Linked DNA regions of Homo sapiens: regions 1 and 2 are each linked to region 3. The links come from fine-mapping of genetic effects on gene expression. A gene starts in region 3. Each other region holds a variant in brackets. All regions are shown on one strand. Distances are between the middles of the regions. Region 1 overlaps LINC01504 (long intergenic non-protein coding RNA 1504). Region 2 overlaps LINC01504 (long intergenic non-protein coding RNA 1504). Region 3 holds the start of LINC01504 (long intergenic non-protein coding RNA 1504).

Region 1 (2,765 bases), 20 kb after region 3:
TGGAGTAAATAGCACAATCATAATTGTTTAATTATGAACATGCTCTAATTCTCATGCCACTCTTACAAGGTATGTGAGGTCACACAAGAGTTTCTCCAATAAGTTTTTATATATTTATTGAAATGTACTAAAAGTTTCTATTTTATGCTTTTTACATGTAGTAACTCATTTAATGCTCACAGCTACTCTGAGACATAGATAATATTGTTATTCCCATTTTACAGATGAAGGAACGAGGGCACAGAGAGATTCGAGTTGTCACCCAAGCTCACATAGCACCAGTGACAGAGGTGAGATTTGAATCAGGCAGCCTCTGTCTAGAGTTCCCTTCCTAACCTCCATTCTATACTGCTTTCAAAGATCCAGCCCTTCCCTCAAATCACGTTTTCTTACTTAGACTAGGGTTTGATTCATGTTTACTCACTGGGAATAAAGGTCAGTTAAACAGAATGAGAGAACAGGAAAGTCTTTCAAAATGATGCTTCTGTCTACTTACATTGTCTGTTACTTTAACAACTTAGGGATTCTTGGAGCAAGTAAAGAACCAAATATAAAGACTGCTTTGTGGGAGGTAGCTTGGATCCTTCATCATTTTTTTTCCCCCCATAACTCCTGAGTTCCACTGGAGACACAGATTCTCTGGGGGTAAGATTAGCGGATTCGTATTTTAACAGACCTCTGGCGGTTCTTCTCTATGCTAAAGTTTGAGAACACTGCTTTCAGCATTTCTAATCTCATCTCAAATTCATCAGGGAGCTGTTTCCTCCTTCATGAAAAAATCTTTGACTTAATGATAGCTACCCAGGCCTACCTTATTAGCTAAAGGGGGCATAGAGACTTAACTCTCAGTGGTTGACAATTATTGTAAAGTAATTCTTGCCGTTATTTTTCTCCCCTAAGGGTAAACTTAGCAGCAAATGGCATACTAGTAACTTAACCAATTGAAAGGGTAACAGCAAAACTAACAACCAAGTTTGCTTTTGATAGGTAGAATTGGCTGCCTATAAGGTGTGACATGAAAGTTGAAGGAAGGCTCACTTTTGCAAATATCTTTCCCACTGTTCTGCCAGGGGGAAGCAATTTTTTGGTTTGGGTTCCCCTAAATTCCAAATATGTTACCTAGGAGGAGTAATAAGTTATACATTAAACTGTTATGATTCAATCACAGCTTTAAAAAGATCGCAAAATTAGCTCTCAGGTTACTTAGCAAATAACCAATTAAGGTCTTGAGAGGATAATATTTGGGATGG[G/A]AAAATTTAGGTGGGTAGAAAAAGGCTGAGCAAAGTCAAGAATGTAGGCTGTTACCAAAGGCCAAATGGCAATACTGGACCAGCATATCTTCTTCTGCTATTTCCTTTATGCCCCTGAGGGTTCTTCTGAAGCAGGAGTTGGCAAACTTTTTCTTTTCTTTTTCTTTTGAGACAGAGTCTCACTCTGTTACCCAGGCTGCAGTGCAGTGGCATGATCTCAGCTCACTGCAACCTCCACCTCTGGGACTCAAGCGATCCTCCCGCCTTAGCCACCCGAGTAGCTGGGACCACAGGTGCACACCACCACACCCAGCTAATTTTTTTGTATTCTTGGTAGAGACAAGGTTTCACTATGTTGCCTAGGCTGGTCTCAAACTTGTGAGCTCAAGCGATCCGCCTGCCTTGGCCTCGCAAAGTTCTGGGATTACAGGTGTGAGCCACCACACCTGGCCGCATACTTTTTCTATAAAGAACCAGATAGAGGCTGGGCATGGTGGCTCACGCCTGTAATCCCAACACTTTTGGAGGCTGAGTCGGGCAGATGACCTGAGGTCAGGAGTTCAAAACCAGCCTTGACCAATATGGTGAAACCCTGTCTCTACTAAAAATACAAAAATTGGCTGGGCATTGTAGCATCTGCCTGTAATCCCAGCTACTGGGGAAACTGAGGCAGGAGACTCGCTTGAACCTGGGAGGCAGAGGTTGCAGTGAGCTGAGACTGCACCATTACACTCCAGACTGGGCAACAAGAGGGAAACTCCATCAAAAAAAAAAAAAAAACCAGACAGAAAATATTTTAGGCTCTTCAGTCATGTGGTCTCTGTCGCAACTGCTCAACTCTGCCATTGTAGTGTGAAAGCAGCCATGGACAATATGTAAACAAAACAGTGTGGCTGTGCTTAGTTATGAATCCTAATATTTGAATTTAATATAATTTTCATGTTATAAATTTTTAATTATCTTGTTTTTTCTCAACCATTTAAAATATGAAAATTATTCTTAGTTCAGGGCACATATAAAAACAGATGGTAGGCTGGATGGGCCAGTTTATTGATCCCTGTTCCAAAGCAAAATCAATTTGCTGTTTTCAATACATACTCCATGCTATCCTACTTCTTTACATTTGCTTTCATTATTCCTTCCACTTACGTAGAAGGAGCCCTACACACCCCAACCTACATGCCCATATGTACCCATCACCTAGTTCAATTATTAGCTTATTTTCAAAGTAAACTCTCATCCTCTAAGTGCCTTCATCTATACTTCTCTGATGGCCTTGATCATGGCAGATTTGTATTACTTTGTGGTCTGTGATTTTTTTTTAAATTTTATTTGTTTACGTATTTATTTATTTTTGAGATGGAGTCTTGCTCTGTTGCCCAGGCTGGAGTACAGTGGCACGATCTCTGCTTACTGTAACCTCCGCCTCACGAGTTCAAGTGATTCTCCTGCCTCAGCCTCCCGAGTAGCTGGGACTACAGGCACACACCACCGCGCCCAGCTAATTTTTGTATT
Region 2 (2,765 bases), 30 kb after region 3:
TCTGCAAAGAGTTTTGTTTTTTCAATTCATCGATGCCTTATGAAGTAGATGGGCTGTTAGTTCCACTCTAGTGCAAGAACCACTCCCTCTTTCCTCTCCGCCTCAGAGTTTACCTATTTATTCCAGAAACAAAGGCACAGACGTCATTGTCACGTTGTGCACTTGAATTTCAACTCCGAACTGACCACAGTTAAGCTTGAAGCAAATTGAAAGACTCTGGGTAGATAGTATGGGAAAGTCTAAACAAAACATTGGTGGCCAGGAAGAATGCCTCATGGTGACATGTAAGGAGGCCAGCCAATGCCCAGACAAGACAAGGAGAGCCTCAGGAAAGACAGGTTAGTGGCCACACCCTCTGAGTTCTCATCCTGTCCTATTGAAGAGGAAATGAGTCTCTGAATAAGAGTCTTTCTCCTCATCTAGAATCCTAAAATGTTAAAGCTGGAAAGAACCTGAATATACTGTCTAAAGCCAAGCCTTCATTTTACAGGTGAAGAAAACTGAGGGTCTTAGAGGTCAAGGCACTAGTCTGTGGTCACACAGCTGCTTCACGGCAGACCCAGAAGTAGCCTGCGGTTTTCCTGAGGCTCAGTTCACATCTCTCTGCTCTGAGGAGCCATTTATTTTATTTTAATTCTTTTAAAAAATGTATTTTATTTTTAATGGATAATTAATAATTGCATATATTTATGAGGTACAATGTGATATTTTCATGTATATGTATTCATTATGGAATAATTAAATCAAGCTAATTAAGGAAGAATAATTTATTTTTCTTTCTTTCTTTTTTTTTTGAGACGGAGTTTTGCTCTGTCACCCAGGCTGGAGTGCAATGGCCCGATCTCGCCTCACTGCAACCTCCACCTCCCGAGTTCAAGAGATTCTCCTGCCTCAGCCTCCCAGGTAGCTGCTCCAGGCGCCCACCACCATGCCTGGCTAACTTTTGTATTTTTGTAGAGACGGGGTTTCTCCATGTTGGCCGAGACGGTCTCGAACTCCTGACCTCAGGTGATCCGCCTGCCTCAGCCTCCCAAAGTGCTGCGATTACAGGCGTGAGCCACCGTGCCCAGTGAACAATTTATTTCCTAATCATCATGAAGAGAAGAAAAATAATTATTTATTCTCTGTTCATGTAAGTATGTCCAAGTAATTTATTAAGGAGTAAGAAAAGAGGACTAAAACCCTTAACTAAAAATGAAGTAAAAAGTTTAGATTTCTGGCCTTGCACATGTAGTTCCAGCTACTAGGGAGGCTGAGGTGGGAGGAGAATCACTTGAGCAGAGGAGTTCAAGGCCATAGTGTGCTGTGATCGCACCACTGCACTCCATCCTGGGCAACAGAGCAAGATGCTGTTTCTAAAAATAAATAAATAAATAGAAATTTAGATTT[A/C]TAAGAAAAATTATCTTGATTATTGACTGCAATGTTACTTTTTTTTTGAGATGGAATCTGGCTCTGTCGCCCAGGCTGGAGTGCCGTGGTACAATCTCGGCTCACTGCAAGCTCCGCCTCCCAAGTTCATGCCATTCTCCTGCCTCAGCCTTCCGAGTAGCTGGGACTACAGGCGCCCACCACCACGCCCGGCTAATTTTTTGTATTTTTTTTAGTAGAGATGGGTTTTCACCGTGTTAGCCAGGATGGTCTCGATCTCCTGACCTCATGATCTGCCCGCCTCAGCCTCCCAAAGTGCTGGGATTATAGGCGTGAGCCACCGCGCCCAGCCTGTTACTTTCTTTTTAATAAAATTCTCTATTATTTCTAGAGTATGGCCAGACATGGTACATAAACCTTCAAAAGTGTCCTGGCGTGTCCATCTCTCCTCCTACCCAATAAATCACGTTATTCTCATCTCCATTTCCAGTTACCCTCTGAAATTTCCCAATTCTGGTAATATTCCCTTTAAATGTTAGGAGAATGCAAATTCATTTTTAAAATTCCTGTATCCACTTAGCAAATTATAGCTAAAGCTAAAATTTCAATACTTCATCAATCTTATTTCTAAATAGAAAACAGGTAAGTACAGGCAAGTCTGAATTATAGAACTTTTTGAAAGAAATTTAATTGACTTAATTACAACAAATGAGTTTACAAGATATAAAAAAAGAGATGTTGGGAGTGGGCGGCTGGATAAGAATGAGCTGTAATCACCATAAGAATTATTTTCATTTTTCTAGGCTGGCACTGTGCCTCACATCTGCAATCCCAGCATTTTGGGAGGCCAAGGCGGGCAGATCACTTGAGGTCAGGAGTTCGAGACCAGCCTGGGCAACATGGTAAAACCCCATCTCTACTAAAAACACAAAAATTAGCCAGGTGTGATGGAGTATGCTTGTAGTCCCAGCTACTTGGGAGGCTGAGGCAGGAGAATTGCTTGAACCTGGGAGGCAGAGGTTGCAGTGAGCCAAGATGGTGCCACTGTACTCCAGCTTGGGTGACAGAACAAGACTCCATCTCAAAAAAAAAATTATTTTCATTTTTCCTAAGGAAGAAATTGGCAAAGTTTGTTTGCAGCTGGAGCACAGTCTTAAAATCTTTGCCACATTATTGTCATGCTTAGCAAATACAAAGTATTCCCACCTCCACCAACTCCCTTAGGACTCAGACTGTAAGATTTACAGAGCTCTGAAGAAATGTCTTCCTTTTAAGACTATGAATTTATGGAAGCATCTGAAAATTAAAAAGCACATAAAATAGTCATTTGCTAAATGCATCAAACCCTCGGGGGCTCTAATGAACAGTTGTGTTGAACTGGATACATAAAGCTTTCC
Region 3 (2,765 bases):
GGTTCCTGTTTAACCAACCCAAAGTTAGAATTGGCTGAGAAAACTCTTACTAGCAAGTAATGTTATTGTCAAATAAATAGACTTAGGGATAATGTCAGCCCTAGTTAGTTGGGGTCACCCTGCCTCTTAAGATCTAGAGGACATAGGCTCAATCCCCCATACCAAGACTTGCGGAAGTCCAACTCAGTCTTCAACAATTCCATGCATTGCCAGAGGGCTTACATTCTCATGATCAGTTCTGGCTTCAAACTCCTATTTTGCTGAATTTGTTGAGTTTAGAGATAATCTTTTCATTGCCTCTTGTGTTCCTTATTCTGTATCACCTCAATACAATGTAGATCCTGGCCAGCCAGCCAGCCTGCCTTCCTCTCCTCCTCATCCTTCTTCTTCTCCCCCATCCTCTCTCTTCTCTTGTCTCTCTCTCTCTCTCACTCTCTCTCTCTCTCTCACATACCCACACCCACACCCACACACACACACACTCACACAGGCATTTTTATATGTAGTCAACTTTGCTGGAGTTTGGGAAAGGTAAAAGTAGTTTGCATAAAATGTAAAAAACATGAATACAATATTCATCATCCTTGTCCTTGTTCTTAAAAAGCAAATCTTTCATTCCTTTTCTGCCACAATTCGGGCTCCAGCCTCCCTCTCTTCCTTTTCCCCTCCTTTCTATGCCCACTCTCTTTTAAGAGAAGAAAAAATTCCTCTCATTCTCTTACAGGGGACAACTTAGCCCTCCCAGAAACTTACTGGGTCATTTTGACTGCAAGTGACAGAAAACAAAGTTCAAGCTGCTTGACACAAGAGGATCTACTGAGCCTTATAACTTAAAAGTCCAAGGGTGGATCTTGTTTCGGGCGTGGGTAGATAAGGGAGCTCGGCCGTGTCAGCAGATCTGATTTCTGTCTCAGTGTGTTGGCTCCACCCTTCCTGATTCTGGCTCCCTGTCTCAGCAAAACTCTCCTTGCTTTACATTGGGCCTACCCCTAGGCCTGTCAGTGTGGGCTGGGAATGCAGCACGCTCATTGGCTTAGGCCTCATTCCCATCATCCAACCCTGGCTCCAGGAGGATGGGATTAGTGTGACTCAAACACGTGGAAAGGAGTGGTTCTTCTGAGGAAAACCAGCTGAAGTATTACAGAAAGAGGAAATGCTGCAGAGACCCAGCCGGAAACAGTGCTGGCCAGCTCACGCCTGACCCACCCTTATTCTAAGCATAGGGTCTGCCTCTGAAGAGCTAAAGACTTCCTGAAATTTAAAAATTAGTGCTTTTATTTGCTTGTCCTGCTAAGACCGTAGGCAAAGGCCATCCTCCTCCCATTGACAGTTTAGAGTGGGTAAGTTCGTTTTTATAGATATTCTAAAATGCCCTGCAGGTACCAGAAACGTTTTATATCTTGATGGTAGGGGTTACACGGGGTATACATACGTTAAACTTTATCAAGCTGTACAGTTAAGGTTTGTGTACTTTACTGTATATGTAGTTTAGTGTACAAGCTGTACCTCAGTTAATTTTATTTTGTAATTTCCTGCAAGATTAGCAGCAAAAGCGCATGTGATGTCGAGTGCAACACTCAAGCCCATGATCTTTGGTTTGCCTTTATACTAAGCCTTATTCAGCCAGAAGCCAAGAAATAGCCCAGCTGAGGTCACCAGGGTAGAAAACCCATATGGGTTTGGGATTAAGTCCTATTTTGTATTAATATGGGTATATTTGCCTGAAGTGTCTTCTGGAACCTATATTTAATTTGTGTCCCTCAGAAACTGAGTATGTTGACACAGGAAACATTTAGAGACTGGGGATAGCCTGAGAGTCAATGTCTATAACTAAGGCTTCTAAACATTCCCCTAAATTATTCAGGTGAACATTACAGTAGTCCCCTCTTATCTGGGGGGATACCTTCCAAGCCCCCCATTAGATGCCTGAAATCAGATTTTACCAAACCCTGTACATACTATGTTTTTCCTATACATACATAACAATTATAAAGTTTAATTTATAAATTAGGCACAGTAAGAGATTAACAACAATAATAATAAAATTAAAAAATTACAACAATATACTGTAATAAAAGTTATGTAAGGCTGGCAAGGTGGCTTATGGCTGTGAACTTTGGGAGGCAGAGGCGGGAGGATCCCTTGAGCCCAGGATCCTGGGCAATTTGGCAAAACCCCATCTCTACAAAAAATAAAACACTTAGCCAGGCATAGTGGCGCATGCCTGTGGTCCTAGTACTCAGAAGCTGAGGCAGACGGATTGCTTAAACCCAGGGGGTTGAGGCTGCAGTGAGCTATGTTTGTGCCATTGCACTCCACTGTGGACAACAGAGCAAGACCCTGTCTCAAAAAAAAAATTATATAAATGTCTCTCTCTTTCTTTCAAAATACCTTATTGTACTGTACTCACATATTTTCAGACCACAGTTGACCTCAGTTAACGGGGAACTATTGTATTCAAGGCAGAAAGATAGTTTGCCTTCTACCATAAAATGGTGCTATTCAAAGTCATCATTCCTCAGTGAAACATCACATTTGACAGTCCTTTAGAGCAGATTGTAATGGATTTAGAATTGGAAGATCCACCTTTAAGTCCTGGCCTTGTCCTTTACTGGCTGTGTGGCTTTGGGCAAGTCACTTAATTGTGGCTGAGCTTCAGTTCCACATCTATAAAATGATGATATGGGAGGTTCCTGTCTTTCAGGGCTGATCTGCAATACAGAGATGACACATGCAAAGATCTTTTGTGAAATGGTAAAGTCTCA

Evidence for each region.
Region 1: its variant is fine-mapped to the expression of LINC01504 in whole blood (TOPMed, PIP 0.98).
Region 2: its variant is fine-mapped to the expression of LINC01504 in whole blood (TOPMed, PIP above 0.99).

Annotation. Positions count from the first base shown.
Region 1 is chr9:72,324,765-72,327,529 of GRCh38, forward strand. The region is part of intron 2 of LINC01504 (long intergenic non-protein coding RNA 1504); the gene reads left to right. Among named protein-coding and RNA genes, the nearest start is that of LINC01504, 21 kb to the left of the region's middle. The variant G/A (reference allele first, on the strand shown) is at 1,251.
Region 2 is chr9:72,334,595-72,337,359 of GRCh38, forward strand. It overlaps LINC01504 (long intergenic non-protein coding RNA 1504), which reads left to right. Exons shown (of 5, transcript NR_110952.1): 4 at 798-903. Among named protein-coding and RNA genes, the nearest start is that of ZFAND5, 29 kb to the right of the region's middle. The variant A/C (reference allele first, on the strand shown) is at 1,390.
Region 3 is chr9:72,304,286-72,307,050 of GRCh38, forward strand. It overlaps LINC01504 (long intergenic non-protein coding RNA 1504), which reads left to right and starts at 1,151. Exons shown (of 5, transcript NR_110952.1): 1 at 1,151-1,340.